Regions from separate parts of the Homo sapiens genome. Here all the other regions are linked to region 4. Evidence: fine-mapped expression QTL. A gene starts in region 4. Each other region holds a variant in brackets. All regions are shown on one strand. Distances are from middle to middle. Region 1 holds the start of LOC104054148 (a long non-coding RNA gene). Region 2 has its middle 18 kb from the start of MIR5680. Region 3 has its middle 2.6 kb from the start of MIR5680. Region 4 holds the start of NCALD (neurocalcin delta).

Region 1 (5,154 bases), 190 kb after region 4:
CATATACCAACTCCTTTTGGATATTAGGAATTAAGGCAGACTGAATGGGAAGTAACTATAAACTATAAGTTTTACAGTTTACAAAGCACTTTATAACTATAAACTAACTATAAACTATAAAATACTATGAACCTACCTTGTATGTTGAAAGCCACTGTGCAAGAAGTTAGGCTTCTCATAAAAAAAGGGTATAGCCTTGAAAATTCCTATGATTTCTCATACATAAAAAATTCCATAGCTGGGCATGGTGGCTCATGCCTGTAATCCCAGCACTTTGAGAGGCCGAGGCTGGTGGATCAGGAGGTCAGGAGATCGAGACGATCCTGGCTAACATGGTGAAACTCCGTCTCCACCAAAAATACAAAAAAATTAGCTGGGTGTGGTGGCACACGCCTGTAGTCCCAGCTACTTGGGAGACTGAGGCAGGAGAATTGCTTGAACCCGGGAGGCAGAGGCTGTAGTGAGCCGTGATCACACCACTGCACTCCAGCCTGGGCGACAGAGCGAGACCCCATCTCAAAAAAAAAAAAAAAAATCCTTATACCATTGTCATGTAACATATGTTCTGTGACCTTGAATAAATTAGCATACACTGGAAACTGTGAAGGGTTTAGCAGACACATGCTCTTCCCTTCCATCTTGGGCAGCTTCAGCACCAAAAGGCAGCCTAAACCCACTGAGTATGCAGAGTCTAAACAATTCCATTTTTAAAGAAGAAATAAGCCACAGTGTGACTAGACCCCCAAGCGGCTACATTCTACCAGATACATATGCTTCTGAGATACAGGCTGAATGAGTCTCAGAACTGTCCTCCCTTTTGAGCACATTTATCACAGAAGTTCATCTACCTTTGGGGTTCTGTCCCTCTGCTACCAGGTAGTGAGGGCTGCTGTCACCTAATTGATGGGCATGTTTTCTCTTCTTCCCCACCCCTGGCTCATCTCAGGGGCTCTGCCGAGGGCTTATTTTCTGTTACAGAACTAAGATTTCCTTTTCTTTAGGAAAGGTTATTTCTAAATACCTTAGCCCTCCCCTGTTCCCTAACCCCAGGACTCCGTCCCTATGCCATGGCCTGAAGCAAGCCAGAAATATGAAGTTTCAAATTCTCTTTGTCCCAGAGCTAATGATATTTTGGGATGAATTTTATGCAATCTGAATTTTCACCCTTTTCTTAGTAGAGAGAAACTTATGTTAAATTCACCCATGCAACTTAGGCCTCCATGATGAGCTTGTCTTTGTGAAACAAACATTAACTAACCGAAACTGTAGGGTTGTGTGTATGTGTTGTGATGGATACTTTCCGCTGGCTCCTTCAAATCCACTCCCTACCCTTCTCCACACTGCTCTGTACCCCAGAAGGCTGAATTTTATGGAACGTAGCAATGGGCCTTCTGGCCTTTCTGGGCTTTGGTTGAGGTTTGCCAATGGAACTCCTTGGCAGGTGATCAGAAAGAAGAGGAACTGATGGGTTTACTCTTCCCACCATCTTCCTGGTGGGTGGATGTGCTCCTCTGTGAAAGGCACAGCCCCATGTCCAGTGGCACCTCCCACATCTGAGTTTGGTGCCCTACCCAGTCCCCTCCAGGCTTAGGGATTACAGTGGCTTCCCAGGGTGCTTTCGTCATCCTTTGTTAGTTTCTTTTAACCATGCTGACACTTTTGTAAATAGGTCTCTCCTGAATCACCTGCTCGAATATGCTATGTTTCCTGCCTGGACCCTGTGACATTATTTTCAGTCTAGCAATCTTCAGAAATGTCTCCACCTGAGGTTTCCACAAACCATGAGCACCTAAGGAACAGGATGTTTATAAAAATGGCTCACTCCTTATTACTTGGACAGTTCTCTGTTTCTAACTCTTTAACCTTCCTAAAGATTTTAATGCCAAAAACATCCTGTATTCAATTAAAATATTATATACCACAATTCCAGGTACTGCATCCAATGGAAAGAGCTCCTGCTTTCAAGACTAATTGTATAGACATAGACTTCTTCCAACATAGGGTTTCATTACATAGTCTTGATAAATACCAGTATAACAATATATATCATTGTGACATCAGATAGCATCACTTATAGAATAAATGGCCTGAGCTTTGAAGAATAAGGGCAAAAACCTGCTCTACAGGACAACTGACTAATAAATGTTGAAGCTCTGAAGCAAAAAGCATTTGCTTAACCCAGTTTAATTATTTCTAAATGACTCAAAAACAACTCTCAGAAACTTAGGAGGCCAATAAGCACTGAAACACGTTCTTTCCATCAGCAGAGAGGGCTTAGAGGACTCTCCAAACAACATCCTCTCTCACCCTACATTTGAAACTGAAGACAAGCCAAGAGCTACCAAATGTAACCTTAGCCACGCAGAACCCATTTGAAGCAAGCGGAGTACAGCAACATTCTCTTGATTAAGTTTCCTTTTGAGCAAGAT[C/T]AAGGGAGTGGTGAAAACCCAGCACTTGACTTTTAAGTCACAGAGAATGGTATTTAATGATTGATTCTGTGCTTCTCCAAGACAACTCTACCCAGGGGGTACCCACCATCACCTCAGTTCACATCACTGTGACTCAACTTCCCATCTCTGCTGAGAACTTAGGCACCCCACACACTTTGGGAGCTGGAATACCTCCCATGGACACCAGCCCTTTAAGTAGCCTGTGACAGAGGACACCAGAGTCAGGGACATGGATTTTAAAGAACTATGTAGCTTAAGGGCCTACCCTTATCCCTTAATCAAAGGGTGAAAATTTTCAAAGCACAACCCAAGTTACTCACATAAAGCATATTACAACCCCTGATGTTCACCTTTGGAACTCCGCCGCCATGCTGCGTGGAAGCCAACAAGCCATGGAGGGGTGCACGTGGACAGAAGACAGGGCTCCCCTCACCCCGGGTCTTCTGATGACCCACCCCCAGCCCAAGCTCCCAGCTGCCAGTCATGTGAGTGAGCCGTCTTGAAGGTGGACCCCCCAGCCTCCACTCGACCCACCCCAGCTGATGGTATGCAGAACAGACCTGAGCCCTCCCACCTGGACCAGCTCAGATTAGAGATTTGTGAGGTATGGAAGTGATTGTTGTGTTAAGCCCCTAGACTCAAGGGTGATTTGTAATGCAGCCATAGACAGCCCAAACTTTCCTGGTAATTCCAATATGAAACCTGTTAAATATGTCCTCAGCCAGTGAGAGGATGGAGAAATGAGAGATGAGGCAGATTCTATAGCTTTTATATTTTTAAAAACTGTGAAAGGCTAAATATAACAAAGAAAAGCAGTTGTGGTCTTTCACAGTTTGACATTTTACTCTGTTTTAAGGGCTAGAAAAATTAAAGGAAGAAAGAGGATGAACATTAATGTTGCTGGGACCAGAAAACCAGCGGGCATTCCAAGCCCTGTCCCTTCACGTTAGGATCCCTCAAACATTTCGTTTTTCTTCCCAAGCTGCTTATATTGGCTGGAAAGACTATTTATACTCAACATTTCTTCCCAAAAGGATCTTCAGATCAAATTTTTAAAATACGCATTTAATAACATTCAAGGAGTAAGGGTTGGAACTTGGAAGCCTTAGGGACTCTTTCCTCTCAAAACTATCTTGCACACTCCCGCCACACAAAATTCCTCAAATTGCCATTGGTATATCACTCGCTTGTTCAAAAATAAATGATCATTCCTTTTTGTTTACTGAACTCAATCCAGTTTTCTTTCTTTCTTTTTTCCTTTCCTTTTCTTTTTTCTATTTTTTTGAGACAGAGTATCACTCTGTCGCCCAGGCAGTGGCGCGATCTTGGCTCACTGCAACCTCCGCCTCCCAGGTTCAAGCGATTCTCCTGCCTCAGCCTCCTGAGTAGCTGGGATTACAGGCAGGTGCCACCATGCCTGGCTAATTTTTGTATTTTTAGTAGAGATGGGGTTTCACCATGTTGGCCAGGCTGGTCTCGAATTCCTGAGCTCAGGTAATCTGCCTGCCTCAGCCTCCCAAAGTGCTGGGATTACAGGCGTGAGCCACCGCGCCCAGCCCACAACATTCTGATATTCTTTATCCATCTTTTATGGTACTATGGCTTCGCCTTGAACTGGTTCTGAACATGCCTTGGCTATTCCCACCTATAAGCTCTGATTCACGTCAAGCCATAGACTCTTACCTGTGTCTTTTGTTCAGTCAGCCATCTTGCAAAGTCATGTTCAAACCTGATCTCAATTTTAAAAAGGAGAAAATCCCTGCCCACCGCAGCTGCCAGCAATCCCGCTCTCCATTTAAACTCGTACAGCACTCAACACTTGCAGCTGTCATCTGACTCTATGCAGCTTTGCCCATTCTCCAGCATCAAGGGCAGGGCCATCTCTCTTGCATCTTTGCACTCCTCCTCACCCAACTCCACACACACCCAGAGCCCAACTCAGTATCTTTAATAGCTTATATACTGAATTAATGCTTATTAGATTAGTTAATAGAACTAAATAATTATAGCAAATGGCTAACAAGGATTCTTCCAGGAATATTTTTGTCTCACCCAGTGCTTAATCTTAAGGAAAGAATTGCTAATTAGGTAATTTTGAGCTTGAGCCAGCCAGCTGGGGTTGATAAGAATGTGAGGGGAGCGAAGACTCTCCAGCAGGGAGGTGCTGCTGATGCCCTGCTAGATATGCTGGGGGTCCCCGGAATCACACCTGCATAGGACAGATGGGATCTTAAAGGCCACCTACACAGAGGGTTTATCTTAAATTTATTATGTATGAAGAAAGGTATAGACAGTATTTAGTGCAAACCTTCATGTCACAGATGAAGACAGTAAAACTCAGAGGATAAGTGATAAGCCCCCCAAATCAGCAGAAATGGCCTCAACCTCAGATCTCCTCACTCCTATTCCAACATTCTTTCCACTACAGAAAACGGGGCGACTATTGCCTTTTCTCAACATGCACTCCTCTTTGAAGGGCAGACTAGCAGCAGTGTTTCAAAGTGCACGTTTGATTAATGTTTTTAAAGCCAATTTTTCCTGTGAAGAGTGACCTAAATTGCCAGACATTTTCTTCTTGAACAAAATCAAAAACTTCCTACTTTTGTCCTCTGACTGAGAAAGGTGTGTCCATGTATGTAATATCCAACCATTTTTTCCGAAGGAGAAGGGATATCTGATTTGAGCACTGCATCGTGCACGTCTC
Region 2 (5,154 bases), 350 kb after region 4:
AACATCTTAATGAAGACTTTGGAATTTCCCTTTAGATCTCTTCTTTCCCCTTCAGTTTACAGGCTCTATAAAAGGAACCTATTGCTTTTAAATGTCTCTTCCTTTATCTCCATTCAAGGATGATCATATCTCTACATCCTACATCTAGATTATGTTTTTTTCCTACTACATGTGTATTTAATAATATCTCTTCGTCTGATTATAGCTCATGCTTGCTAGCTAAGGATACGCTGACATACCCCACCAAAGTCACAACTTCAGTATGTGGAGGGGAGTAGAGAGGTTTTCATTAAAATGGATTGTCCACTGTCATAGCACAGTACTACTTCAGTACTACTCTTCATCTCCAAAGTATGGATGTGAAGAAGCAGACCAGTAATGTTGGCAGTGACAGTTGATCAGTTATCTTCCAACTTCCAGTGTGTCCACTGATCATTTTATCATCTTTGCAGTTCATCTTACAAGCCTTCAAAACATTCTCTAGGTATCTTGTATGTGGCACTCAGAACAAAGTGCAGTTCTCTGCAAAGATCCTTCTGACAGGCAGCTGAAGGTCCTGGGCACCAACCTTGAGGCCATCGCAGTATGCTGGAGTCTTGAGAGCTGATTGTTGAGTAGTCAGGAATTTTGTGTCCAACTTTAAAAAAATTGAAATCATACAAAATATGTTCTCTGAGCATAAAACAGAATTAAACGAGAAGTCAATCACAGAAAAATCCCTAAATATTTGGATTTTTTTTTTTTTTTTTTTGAGACAGAATCTTGCTCTGTCGCCCAGGCTGGAGTGCTGTGGCATGATCTCGGCTCACTGCAACCTCTGCCTCCTGGGTTCAAGCGATTCTCCTGTCTCAGCCTCCCCAGTAGCTGGGATTACAGGTGCACACCAGCACACCTGGCTAATTTTTGTATTTTTTTAGTAGAGACAGGGTTTTGCCATGTTGGCCAGGCTGGTCTTGAACTCCTGACCTCAGGTGATCCACCCACCTCGGGATCCACCCACCTCCCAAAGTGCTGGGATTACAGGGGTGAGCCACCACACCTGGAAATATTTGGAATTTAAGTCTCCCAATATTCAGAAATTAAACAACACATTTATAAATTACCTATTGGTTAAAGAAGTTTAAAGGGAAGTTAGAAATGTTTTGAGGGAGGGGTATTGATATCTCTGACTGTAATTGTGAATTTGTCTATTTGTCCTTGAAGTTCTCTCATGTATTTTGCTTCATGCATTTTGAAGCTCTGTTATTAGGTGCATAGACATTTAAAATGTTTATGTTCTCTAATTGACCAGTGTGTCATGATGAAATGATCCTCATTACTCCTAGTAATAGTCTTTGCTCTGAATCTACTTTGTCCAATATTAATGTAGTCACTCCAGCTTTGTTTTATTAGTAGTAGCATCATATATTTTTAATCTTTTTACTTTTAGCAAATTTGTATTATTATATTTAAATTTGGTTTATTTTAAGCAGGATACCATTGAGTTTTGCCTTTTTATCCTGTCCGACAATCTCTGCCTTTTAATTAATGCTTAGATCATTTCCATTTAATATGATTACAGATATGTGTGGGTTTAAATCTACCATTTTGTTCCTTGTTTATTATTTGTCACCTCAGTTCCTATTTTGTTGTTTTCTGCCTCTTTATTTTTTATTATTCCATTTTATTTTCTTTGTTGACTCATTAGCTACACCTTCTTTTATTTTATATGATTGCTTTTGTGATTTTAGTGATGGCTTTAGTTATTTTGTTACTGAATGCCTTTTTTAGTGATGACTCTATCATAGTAATAATATGCCCTCAATTAATAATAATATACACTCAAGTAGTAATATACCACTTCACATATTGCGTAACATTACAACAATGCAGTTATATTTCCCCTTCTCAGCCTTTGTACTGTTTTTATACATTTTACTTTTACATATGTTATAAACCACACAACCTAATGGCATTATTTTTGTTTAAAATGGTCACTTATATTTTAAGATATTTAAAAAATAAGAAAAATATATCTGATATGTACCCACATATTTTCCATTTCTGGTATTCTTCAGTCCTTTAAATAGATCCAGATTTCCATTTGGTATCATTTGCCTTCACCTGAAGTACTTCCTTTAACACTTTCTGCAGCAAGTTTGCTATTAATACATTCTTTCACAGTTTATATGTCTGAAAAAGTCTTTATTTTGCTTTCATTTTTGACATTAATTTTTGCTATGTATAAAATTCTATTGTCAAAATGGTTGACAGTTTTTCTTTTAGTACTTTAAAGATGATCCACTGTCTTCTGCTTGCATTATTTCCAACAGGAAGTCTGCTCTCATACTTGTTCTATCCATTGTGTGTCTTTTTTTTTTCTGGCTAATTTTAAGGTATTTCTTTTAATCAGTAGTTTCAAGAAACTTAAGATGTGCCATCGTGTAGTTTTCCTCAGGTTTCTTGTATGTGAGGTTTATTTAGTTTTTTCAATCTGTAAGTTTTTCATCAAATTTGAAAAACTTTTAGTCATTAGTTTTTCAATATCGTACTCAACCACACACACACACCTCTACTTTGAGGACTCAAAATACACATGTATTAGGCTACTTAAAGTTGTCCCACAGTTCACTGATGGCTCTGTTTATTTATTTATTTATTTATTTATTTATTTATTTATTTA[TTTTG/T]GTCAGTGTTTTTTCTGTGTTTTGCTTTATTTTCTATTGCTATGTCTTCAGGTTCAGTAATCTTTTCTTCTACAGTGTCTAATCTGTTTTAATCCTGTCCAATGTATCTCTCATCTCTAAAATTTCACTTTGAGTCTTCATATATTTTCTGTGTCTCTCCTTGACATGAATACTTTTCTTCTATATTCTTGAACATACTGGAATATATTTATAATGATTACTTCGATATACTTGTCTACTAATTCTATTACCTTCATCATTTCTAGGTCTGTTTGTATAGTTTAATTTTTATCCTCATTGTAAATTATGTTTTCCTTCTCCTTTGCATATGCCTGAAAATTTTTATTGGATGCCAGACATTGTGAATTTTACTATTCTGGGTTATAGGTATCTTTAAATTCCTTTAAATAGTCTGGAGTTTTAAGTAACTTGGTAACAGTTTGATCCTCTTAAGCTATGTTTGGCAGGACAAGAGAAGTATTTATTCCAGGCCTAATTTTTTCTCTACTACCAAGGCTAACACTTTTAACTACCCTGCCCAAAGCCCTGTGTATTGCAAGGTTTTTCCACCCTGGCTTGGGGCAACATGAATTATTTTCATCTCTGTGTGAACTCTAGGGATTGTTCCACCTGTTTTTCTTCTGGTGGTTCTTTCCCCAGCCTCGTTTTCTTCACATTCGTGCTGTAAGCAATACTTAGCTGAAGTCTCCAGAACTCCGGGAATCTCTTGAGCTCTCCTTCTGGGAAGCTCTCTTCCCTCAGGCATACTGCCTTAAAAATTCTAGTCGTGTTTTATCCCCTCCTCCCAAATTCTCAACTCTGTCTCTTCAAGTCAGAGAGAGCTTTGAGCTCCACTTGGGTTCCTCCTCCTTGAGCTTTGGTCTGGAGACTCTCCAGGCAGTAAGCTGGGGTAGATCATAGGTTCTTTTTGTTTGTTTATCTTCTCTGGGAGATCACTCTCCTGTGCTTTCTGTTCTGTATGTGATAACTGTCATTTTCATATACTTGTGCTTGTTTTTTAGACGATTGGGGCAAGAAGGTAAATTTAATCTCTGTTACTTGACTATGGCCAGAAGTGAGAGTCTCGTTTATTATTTCAAACTGAAAAAATACTTGCATATGGTTTTTAAAAAATTAGACAATACAAAAGGGAATATGTTAAAAAGTAGGTCTTCCTTATACCTTATGCCACTAATGCTCCCAATTCCCTAATCCCTTCCTTTTCAGATGCAGTAACACATTTCTTATAAAATGTTTCATAAATATTCTATGCATCTATTAGCATATGTATGAGAGAATACTATACACAACATTCTGTAGCCCCTACTTTCTTATGCTTAACAATATGTCTGGAGATGGTTCCATATGTGTGCACATGGTTCTCTTTATTTTTTATGGCTGCAGAGTCTTTCACTGTATGGCTATAATATGATTTATTTAACCAGTTCCTGATTGACGGATATTTAAATGAGTTTCCAGCCCTCTACTATTATAAGCAATGTTATAATGAATACTTTTGTACATAAATCTTGGGCACATATGACAATACCTTCTCTTAGTCCTTTTGGGCTACTACAACAAAATACCATGGACTGAGTAGCTTATAAACAACAGAAATTTATTTCTTACAGATCTGGAGATTAAGAGGTCTTGGATAAAACTGCCATTAAATTCAGTGTCTAGTGAGGGCCCATTTCCTGGTTCATAGATGACACTTACTTGCTGTGTCTTCACATGGTGCGGCAAGAGTTCTCTTATGAGTTCTTTCCATAAGAACATTAATTCCATTCTTGAGGGCTCCATTCTCATTACATAATCACCTCCCAAAGGCCCCACCTGCTACTACCATCACTTTGGGGATTCAGATTTTACCACATGAATTTTGAGGAGACACAAACATTCAGACCATAGCATACCTGTAAGATAAATTCATAGAATTAGAATTGCTGGATCAAAAGGACTATGCATTTTACAAATAGGATAAGCAGAGTTAAATTGTCCTCAAAAGAGACTGCACCAATTTACATTCCCATCAACAGTGTCATAAGAGAGAGGCTATTTAACTTGGATGTTGCATAAAATAGGAAACAAAAATAGTAAAGATTTGAGTAACGACAGGTTGAGCTCAGTGTTTCCACAAATCTTAGAAAGTAGGAAGGGGAAACAGAAAGAAAGGAAACAATGAATTTCAGGTTGTGCGATTTAAATCAGGTTATGTTTATGATAAAAATGTATAATAGATAATTTTCCCCTTTTAAGTGTTTTTAAAATATGCATGACTGTCAAAAGTAGAAACTATAACATTGTCTGGTAGGGTTTTCAATGTATATAGATTAATACATGTGAAAATTGTAACATAAATGGTGAAGAATAAAGGAAGCTATAAGGTTCAAAAGTCTCTATATTTTACCCAAAGTGATAAAATGTTAATTATTATTATAAAACAAAAGGTTAGAAATGTATATTGTAATTCTTAGAACAACCAGTT
Region 3 (5,154 bases), 330 kb after region 4:
CAAAATCCAGGGGCTCATCTCTTGGTGAGAGTATAACAATTTTCTGCTGAAGAAACACCCCTGCTCCTATTTCTCAGCCCGTCTCTAAGGATGAAACATGTGACATGTGATGAAGCCCAAGCCTAGTAACATGTGGCACCCTGGTCACAGGAATAGACACAGGACCCAATCAATGCTGACGAGCCAGAGTAAGTCATTGTGAGCAATGCCGGGATGGAGACTTCCACTTTCTGGCTGGATTTAAAGCCCAGACTATGTAAGGTCTGGAGCTCTTCCAGCCATCCTACAACGAGATGGGGCCTCAATGAGATGGTACTAAAAATGGTGCCGACTCCATGAAAGCAAGCTGAGAAAAATAGAGAAATGAGGTCCCGCTAACAATGTTTGAGGCCTGAATCAGGCCATATCCGAAATGTCTTCCTCTGGACTGAGGAGTTATCAGAGCCAAAATAACATTCCTTTTTTGCTAAAACAGTTTGAATGTTGGGGTTCCTGACACAACAGAATTGAGTCCTAAGTAAAATATCTCCTGAAAAATTATCATAAATGTTAAATGAGGTATTCCATGTAAACCAGGGCCACATAGTACACACTCAATAAATGCCAATATCAATGTTAACTGCAGTGATTGTTCATTGTTGTGGTAGAAAGTTCCTGCCTTCTAGGGACTTTTAACTCATGTGCTCTATCCCTGATTTCTGTCTTCATTATCCGCAAATGATATTCTCTAGGATAGGAATGGTAAAGACTATTCCCTAATCCCATTCCCTAGCAGACAGACATCACTAGTTGACCACAGCACACTTTCTTGCTGAGCCCAGACCCAGCCTTGGATTCCTACTGGACCCAGATTTCCAGGCAGCCAGTCAGATGATGTGCAATATGAAACCAATATGTCTCAGCTTCATTGCAACAGTTGGCAAAATTTTCCTATAAGGAGCTAAGTAGTAAGTATTTTAGACATGGTCCCTATCACATATTCTTCTCCGTGTTTTGTTGTGTTGTGTTGTGTTTTTGTTTACAACGCTTTAAAAATATAAAGCTCATTCTTTGCTCTCGGTTGTACAAAAATCCCTTCTCTAGAGCTTTGAAGCCAGACTCTGGGGCTGCCTCAGGGAAGCAGCAGCTCTTATCTTCCCGTGCAACTTCCTGGGACCCCAGGAGTTGGAGAGCTTGGAGTGGGTGCCTGAGTCAGAAAAGTACCCTCTGAACATACTGAATAGTCCAAAAAGTAACAAAAGAGCTTTGGTGACTGCAGATTTCCTGTTATCATACCAATACCAGGCAATCTGAAATTCACATTCTGAGGGATGCTATACATAATTCAAGGAAAAGCTATAAAACCCATGTGTGTTATAAACTTCACCTCTGCCTCCAGAACCAAATTCACTGCACAACCCTTTCAAAAAATTGGACCTCCATCCCCTACAGCCACATCTGAGATGCCTGACCTTTTCATGAGAGAAGTAAGGAAAGAGAAGGGTTCAGATCGTTACATTTCTTCATTGTTAGTCTGCCCCTCACCATTAAAAGGACACACCTCGAGGGCAAGGATCCCATCAGTTTCAAGACAGTATGCCACATTTCTTTTGACCAACTCTTGATTCCTTAGTATTTCCCAAGGTTTTTTATCGTAGAGTGTTAGATATAAAGCTTGGTTTGGTCCTCCTCTCTGTCTATTATTCTCTGTGTTTGATTCTGGCTTTAGTGAAAAGGACTGGATTTTGTTTGACTGATGTTTGTTTATTCATTCAACAAACATGTACCTACAATCAGAATCCATCTCTCAAGGCACATGCAGGTGCCTTGATACATAGATACATAGATAATGTACATAGAAAGATACATAGATAATGGTGCAGAATGATGCGAGGGCTACATCCAGGGTAGCATGGCACCTCTGGGAGGGGGAGTGCCATGCAGCCTGCTGGAAGGCAGTGTCGCAGCAGCTGAGCTGCCAAGAATGCATAGGAGTTGACCAGACAAGGAAGGTTGGGGAGATGATAGATGCTGCGACTCAGTGGCTTGAGCAGAGGCTACGTGGGGGGAGGCTTGGGAGATGAGGTTAATGAAGAGAGAAGGGTGGGACCGTGAAAGTCCCTGGAGTGTGAATTCTATCCTGAAAACCACAGAAAACCTCTAAAGGAAATTAAGCAGAATGACTGGCTTAGATTTTTGTTTTTGGAATGAGTGTCCACAGTTTGGAGAATGGACTGGAGTAAGACGGTCCTGATTGGGAACAACAAGCTCAAAAGCAATTGGAACAATTCAGGCAAGAAGTGCTGAGAATATGAACTAAGTCAGTGACAGCAGGAACTGAGAGAAGAGGGCGTATAGCAACAACAACAAAAATAATAAGAGCTCACATTTATGCAGCACTTACAACAAGGCATGATGCTTAGTGCTTTCTGGGTATTAACTCATTTTATCTTCACAGTAACCCTGAGATAGCTTTGTTATCTATTATCAACCTCATGCCTCACATCAGAAAACACAGTAGAGGTTAAGTAAGGACCCCAAGATCCAGGAGCTATTGACGAATGAGCCACAGCTCAAACCCGGCTGTCTGGCTGCAGAGCCCACACTCCTAATGTCCATATTGGCAACTCTCCTAATACAGTTACAGACAGAGGGTCTACAGGACTGGACACTGAATGGTTGAGACAGGGGAGACTCCAGGACAATTTCCAGAGATCTGGCTTGGGTAGGTAAACATGTGAATTTCAGTTTCTTGAGCCTCCTCCCCAGATCTGTCCTTGCCCCGCTACCGCAAGTACCCACACTCCCACCATCACACCACACCCCCTCTCCTTTGTAGTCTGCATCAAGGCCTTTGGCCATAAAACACGGGGATCTCCCAATTGGAGTGAAAAACCTCACAAGCATTTCCACTTAGGTCTGAGAAACCCCTGACAGCAAACTCTGCTCTTGGTAATACAGTGGCTTAGGTCTGTTATTTTCAAATCAGCCAGAAGTAGGAAAACTTTGAGCGAGCTTGTGTGGTTTCCTTCTGAGAGAGTGAGACCTTGGCTGCCTACTTCTGTGTTTCACCGTAGCTGCCCTACGGAACAGAACATAGACCTTCTTGCGGGGCTAGCGTGTAAGCACAGCAGCACACCAGC[C/T]GCCTCGCCTGCGGCCTCCGACAGACCCGCAGGAAGAAACTGACCCTGGCAGGAGCTCTGCAGAGCCAAATGGCATTCTTTCTCCATGCACAAAAGTTAAAGCAAGCATCTGCAGCATTAGAAAAAAAAAAAAAAAACTTGTGTATTTCCTGCGGACAGGGAGACCTCCTGCCCCTCCCGGGCTGATACAACCCACTTTGCACATCCTGCTTCTCTGGGAGCTAAAAATAAATCGGTATGCACTGAAAAACACTCAAACACATCTCCCCAGCACACCCTTCCCAAGTCCTCGAGCGCAAGGGACACGAATCTTTCAGGTCCTGAGTCCAAAATGCAGACCACTTCCTCGTCCGTGTTCAACCAGCGCCTTTCGGCCTCTCCCTTGGCCCCCTCCCCAGACGCCCACGCCCCGCACTCGCCTCCTGTGGCCTTTCCGGGCAGACTCCGCAGGCCCGGGATCCAGCGGGTGCCCCGGCCCCCGGCCCCGGCCCCGGCCCCCGGGGCGGGATGCTCCAGAGGTCCCCGGGCCGCCAGGCTCACCAACGCCCCCTTCTGCCCAGCGCGCCCCATCCCGCCGGCCCCACGCGCCTCTGCGCGGCCCTCTGCAAAGTTGCTCTCTCCTTTTCTGCCGCCCACCCTCAAGGTCTGTAATTTTGTTTTGTTTTCCCTCAGAGGCACTGGGGGAATGACAGAGGAATTGACAGGGTGAACTGCACCCAGGAGGGAGCTGCTGGAACCAGGTTCCCAGAACCGCGCGCTCCTCGAACCCACCCCTGCGCCCGCGGCGCACCGAGCGCACGGGTCCCCCCCAGCAGCCGCCCCCGGCACACCCGCCCCGGCTGCAACTCCGACTCCGCTCTGGCTCCCGAGAAGCGGAGGGAAGGCGCTGCGACTCACCGCCTCGGCCGCTCCCAGCGTCTGTGTCGCTTCGGGCGAGGCGGCGGCAGCAGCGGCAGCGCCTTCCCTCCGCCCGCCTCCCCCTGGACAGCACCGTCGCCAGCCGCGCCCCCCTCCCCAGCCTGGCTCGCCGCCTCCCTCCTCGCGGCCGCAGACCCCCTCTCCACTGCAGCCCCGCAGGCAGCCTCTCCGGCGTGGGCTTCACCGCGGGGTTGCAGGGGGGCCAAGATGAGGCGCGGGATTTGCAGGTGCAGTGGACGCCCCCCCCCTCCCCCGCTTGCCCTGGTGCAGCCTCCGGGCGTGTCCCCACGGTGCCCCATAGTCCTAGCTCACCGCCCAGGCCTCTAGCCAGCCTGCACTGCTACTTTCCAAGGGGTGCCATCTGCTTGCCTCCTCGGGTCCTGGGAGGTCAGATTCAGCCTAGAGCACCTCCTTCCAAGCTTCGATTTGAGGGGGGGTCTGGGGTCCCTGCTCTACCGCAGTGAAGTTCAAGGGAGCCTTGGAAGGCAGTTGAAAAGCTTCTCAGGTGGTGTCCTCTGGACTCTTCATGCCCACAAGGTGGGAGGGGGGCTGCTTTTGTCTAACTAGTGCTTTCTCTACCCAAAGCCTTCTGTAAACTGTCTAGGAAAAGCTTAACAAAAAATCCGGAGGAAGACATCTAAGGGGCCCCTCTCCTGCCCCTCCTTCCTCCCCTCAAATTTTTCATCTCGTGTGGAGATAATGAGAAGCAAAATGTCTTGTCAATTCATTCACCCAATATTTATCGAGTACCTGCTGGCTGCCAGCACCTGTTTCCTGTCTTGCTGTGTCGTCCACTCATGGCCTCTCAAAAAGCCACTGTAACTAACTCCTTGTGCTTGTCAACCCTGGTGACATTTCCAGAACCCGCAGAAGGTCTCAAGAGCAACTCAAATTCATCAATTTAAAAAGTTGCTGCTTAAAAATAACAAGGCTGCAAAGGCACCGTGACCTGGCCTTCCTCGTTGTAATGTTTGCAAAATCTTTTAACATGACTGGTTATAGAAAGGACAGTTACATTGAGGTCCAGACAGCTGCCAACTCTGATTTAAACACCAAGTAAAAGTTTCATCTAATCAAAAGCACCCTTTCCTAGCTCTACCGGTTGCCTTCAATT
Region 4 (5,154 bases):
ATGTCCGAAACTATACACAAAATATTTAATAATGCAACAGCCAGGTTTCTAGAGTACCTCGTTCCTTGCCAGCATCTTTTGAAGCTGCAACAAACATGACCTTGAAATCAACATAGTCTCAATGCTGTAAAATGATTCTGATGACAGTCTTTTTTTCTCTTATTTTCCCATAGGAAAAGACCTGTAGATTCTAGAGCATCTCTGCTTTCACAGCATAGGTTGTTTTCTTTTAGTGATAAACTTCATCATTGAGATTTTGCCATCAACGCTGAATTATTCTCTTGTATTTCATACCGCTGAAATATAGTCTATTTTGAAAGAGCATTGAATACAATTATTATAAGACTTTAATTTAAAATGTCATAGAGACAGCACCAAGAAAATCTCTGCTACCTGGAAAAACTATAATGATAATTCCACATTTTGAGTAAAAGAAGTAAATGTCAAAGTGTACCTCATCAAAGATAGTGCTGTTAAATGACGGTGCTACTGGTCTTATCTGTGCTCAACTGAAATGTTACATATAAATTATCATTTTTCTAGGGGTGTTAAGAATATGGCCTCTGGGTTATTATAATTTTGAGATCAATTAAGTGATGAGATTATGTCTCAGTAGATGTGCCTGGAATGAAAGCACATTAGACTTTTGGAAAATCCTCCACGGAGACCCTGACCAAAAACAGACATGTCAAATGCCAGCAAGTTAAATGAATATTCACTCATTGAAAGCTACTGAGAAATTATTGATATACCCACAGTTATTCACTTATTACTGTAGCTAAATACTGTTCAAAATTTTTCACCTCCAAGAGTAAAATAAATGCTATTAGAATTCTGAAACTAATAAAGAACATAAAAATTAAAACAATATATTCTTGCACTAAATTACGATATAATTCACACACTGTGAATATATGGTATTCATATATACAGTTAAACCAGTTTCTTCTACTAATTAAAATACTAGCTGTATTACATGTAGTGCTCTAAAATTTGCCCCTTTTTCTGTTAAACTTGTAAGATTTAGACACCTGGTTATAAATCTAGACTTTGGCTAACTTCAGTACTACAGGTATTCTTTAAATTAGAAGCTCCAAAACAATTCAACCTGTATGTCATGAAAGAAAATCTGAAATTACTAAACTTGGGAAGGAAAGGAACTACAATACAAAGAAAACAATTTGTAGTAAATAGTATTATAGGAATAAAGAGATAAAAATTCTTATTAATCACAGTTATCAAATTATTCATTTAAGATCCAGAGCAAATTGTGAGTGACTACTTCTATCTGTGTTTGAGTTAAAGTAGAACTTGTGTCAATGATACTTTTCATTTTAGGGCTATTGTTTTTTTCTTTAGGTAATTATGACGATTTTTAAAAATAACAACAGCTTACATGACTCCTTAGTAAAGACCACCTCATGCCATTCTCTTCACAGCTGAATTTTCAGGGGAGGATACTGGAAATATGCACTTTGCTCTAACAACCAAAAAGCAATTGCATGCACACATGTAAAAGGTTCCACCCCAACTTCCTTGGCATATTCCCGATTATTTCTCTCTAAACAGGAAACTGTTGACAATTTTTCCTGGTACTTTCAGAATACCAAAGGTTTTACTTACAAGCAAAATCCCAACTTTTGTTTCAGTTATAATGTTATTTCCCGTGGTTCCTATTGTTGCTAAATATGAATGCTGCAAACAAGATAGAAACCAAATTCCAAACTATTTTAGGCTGATTCAGAATTGAGTAGCAATTGTAAAAAGAAAAGTTAGAAACACATTGCAAGGCTATGCTGGAGTTTTTAAACCCAAAACAATACTGAAGGGAGGATTCCTGGAATTCAAGAGAGAATATTTGGCTCAAGCTGCAAAATCCGTATGTCTAAATAATGTTATGTTAGCAAGTGTTGAGCAAGCAAGACGATTATATTTTAACCTACTTCACAAAACATTAATCCAAATTTAACCAAATTCCAGAGAACCTGCCTGAAATTCACAACTAGAAGCTGCTTCACATTTTCCCCTTGGTACAACAATAATTGCTCATGAATACAAACTTGTAGGAGGTAAGAGAGAGGGGAAAACCACAATGAGCTATAAAAACATCTAACTATTGTATATAAAGCAAACTAATTACCTCACTCAGAAGAAGTGCAAGATTTAACAGTCCATGCTCTGCAGCCCCTGGAAACAGCAGTAGCAGCAGCAGCAAGGTCCAGCATCCACCAGATTCTCACAAGCCTTTGACTGTGTGGACTCAGCCACAGACTCTGCCTCTAGCTGACGTCAAAGTCCCTGTCACATGGCCAGATGAAAGCCAAGAGATCATTGGTTGTCGTAGCAACCACAGACCGGCTCTGAAATTATTTCAATAGGTCATCTGTCACTGTGGTGTGTGTGTGTGAGAGAGAGAGTATGTGTGTACGCACACACCATAGAACCATCACGGACAGCTCCTTGACAACCTCAACCCCCGAAGTTGTGACTCCAGAATGCCTACAACTTTCCTCTTTAAGGCTTTGGTGTCTTTTCTCTACAGTTACTTGCAGGAAAATATATGCCACCCTGAAGTTCTCATTTGTTTCACTACCATCAGCATGAAGCATGTCTCTCTCTCTCTCTTTCTCTATAACAAAAGGAAAGAAACTGAAAAATTCTGGAGTAGTTTTCTTAGCCAATTAAACTTATTTGCAAGCAAATATATAAAAACAGAAGCTCAGGGGGAGGGGTTGGAAGAAAATGTATTTTAAAAACTATATCAGAGTCTACATGGATATACTGAGACCATGCTTGTGATGGAAAGAAAAATAAAAAACAGTGGCTTGGGTTCATGACAGTGGCTTATGACTCAGAGACAGGTAAGACAGTCTAATGATCCTGACACCAAGTAGGATGTAGACATCAGATAACATAAATTCAGGATTCCTGTACTGTAAAATGTCTAGGTAAAAATGAGGACCGAAGGAGTTTCAAAACAGTGTTACTTTAAAATAACCATGTGAGTAAGCTGAAAACTGTGCTTTGGGGCCATACGGGTGCCAAATGCTCCCCTCTTGAGTCCTCTCATCCACACCCCTTTGCTGAGACTCAACATTGAGTAAACAGGGCCAGTGTTCCACAAACACAAAGTGTAATGAAAGCCCAGAGCCATAGAATGAAAGGGTTATCTCACATGTTTTCTAACATCAGCTTTATTTCCTTTACGACGACCCTAGCTTACTTTTAACTCTGCACACGTGCCTATTTCCCAGTTAATTCTCTTTCTTAATTAATGGGAAGCCGATTAAACAAAATCAATGAAACTCACAAGAAGGTACTCTGAAAAAGACATTCAGAAAATGTATGCCCAAACAAAGGACAAGGAGTTAAAAGGCAGGGGAGAAGAGACTGCCCTCAAAACCCTAAGGACCTTTATATGCTAGGCTTATAACGACTTCTATTCTGTTTCTTAAAATAAATAAATAAATAAAAAAGAGTAGCTCTGGGGTGCTACAAAATATAAATGGAACCTAAGTCAGCCAGGCAGATTACATTTGTGTCACTGTAAAAGAATGAAATTTCTTTAGTAGAATCAGAAATTGCTTCTTTAATAATAAGACTAATGTTCAAATCACTTGGTCATAGAATCGTCCTACTCCATCCTCCTTTTCATCTTCCTTTATTTCTGTCCCAGCCCCAATTGGGAGAAAAGATAGATTTTTATTTAAAAAGTTATTTTCCTGATGCGATTAGCTGTGGCACTGCAAAACCGAAATCAAACTATAAGGAACTTTCCTCCTTTAATTTCAGATTAATGACAGCTGGGAATTTACCTGTTTGAACAAGGACAATGGAATCCAATGTCTACCTAAAGCCTCACTAGGGGCAGATTTCACCAACAGCCACAATTCATAAACTGACAATTTGTTCCAATTATTGTTCTGCTTTTATGTTCAGAAATGCACATCATACAAATGAGGGAACCGGAAGAGGCAGAGAAACATACCCTTCTAGCTTTCCCTGGACCCACGTTCTCTGAGCTGCTTAATTTACCATCTCTCTGGCTCTAATCCATAGCTGCCTAATTAATTCTTCCTCCTCTTTATGCAGCTTTAGCATTTAAGAGAGAAAAACTGCAGTGCCACATTCTGCTAATAGGTGATGTCTTCTGAAATAAGAAGTTCTCAGTTCTAAAAAAAAAAAAAAATGCCTAAAATTCAGGACTTTAAATGGATTAATTTGAAAATTAGCAAAAAACCAACACTTTTACTTTGACTGGTTTAGCATTTTTAAGACTAAGTATACTTTATACTGCCTTGGGCAGTATTAAAATATTCAGTGAACTATTAAAATATTCAGTGAACTGGCTGGGCATGGTGGCTCACGCCTGTAATACCAGCACTTTGGGAGGCTGAGGCCGGTGGATCACAAGGTCAGGAGATCAAGACCATCCTGGCTAACACGGTGAAACCCCGTCTCTATTAAAAATACAAAAAATTAGCCAGGCATGGTGGCACATGCCTGTATTCCCAGCTACTCAGGAGGCTGAGGCAGGAGGATCGCTTGAACCTGGGAGGTGGAGGTTGCAGTGAGCCAAGATCATGCCACTGCACTCCAGCCTGGGTGACAGAGTGAGACTCCGTCTCAAAAAAAAAAAAAAAAAATGCAGTGAACTGACCTTCAAAATGAAAAGTGGGTGCATGTAGCCCTTTTTTTCTACAACATGCTTCAACCAGAAACTGAAGAGAGAGATTAAGTAATTTGCCTACCTACTCATTTTCCTTTGCAAACTACCTAGGTTTAGAATTTCCTCTTAGAGTGAAGGAAGCTACCAGTCTTCTGTGAGGTTGAAGGCATGATGGTGATCTCTTTAGAGCTCAGATTCCTACCAATTTGGTTAATTAACCCAAATGTAGTTGAAAGTATCACAGGAAATACACATGAGAGCTTTCTCCAATCACAGCCCACTACACTGAAGAGAATATGTGCCATTTTATTTTCTAATTGACAAGTCATTTTTTAAGGTGAAAATGATTCACCAAATTTAAAAATATCCATTCAAAAATAGTTCTGCATCTTATTTTTCACTCTTTGTAAAAATGTCAAGGCTGCCTATTATTAGTTTGACCACTTTGCCAGAAATAACTGGTAAATGCCACTAAACAAGCAGTC

The links.
Region 1: its variant is fine-mapped to the expression of NCALD in whole blood (TOPMed, PIP above 0.99).
Region 2: its variant is fine-mapped to the expression of NCALD in whole blood (INTERVAL, PIP 0.95).
Region 3: its variant is fine-mapped to the expression of NCALD in whole blood (TOPMed, PIP above 0.99).

Annotation. Positions count from the first base shown.
Region 1 is chr8:101,982,323-101,987,476 of GRCh38, forward strand. It overlaps LOC104054148 (a long non-coding RNA gene), which reads left to right and starts at 2,110. Exons shown (of 5, transcript NR_126152.1): 1 at 2,110-3,054; 2 at 4,879-5,154. It also overlaps a transcript of NCALD not described here. RefSeq lists an enhancer at 2,245-2,434. The variant C/T (reference allele first, on the strand shown) is at 2,430.
Region 2 is chr8:102,141,033-102,146,186 of GRCh38, forward strand. No RefSeq gene overlaps it. Among named protein-coding and RNA genes, the nearest start is that of MIR5680, 18 kb to the left of the region's middle. The variant TTTTG/T (reference allele first, on the strand shown) is at 2,663.
Region 3 is chr8:102,120,218-102,125,371 of GRCh38, forward strand. It overlaps a transcript of NCALD not described here. Among named protein-coding and RNA genes, the nearest start is that of MIR5680, 2.6 kb to the right of the region's middle. RefSeq lists silencers at 3,500-3,689, 4,060-4,119. The variant C/T (reference allele first, on the strand shown) is at 3,123.
Region 4 is chr8:101,788,722-101,793,875 of GRCh38, forward strand. It overlaps NCALD (neurocalcin delta), which reads right to left and starts at 2,248. Exons shown (of 4, transcript NM_032041.3): 1 at 2,141-2,248.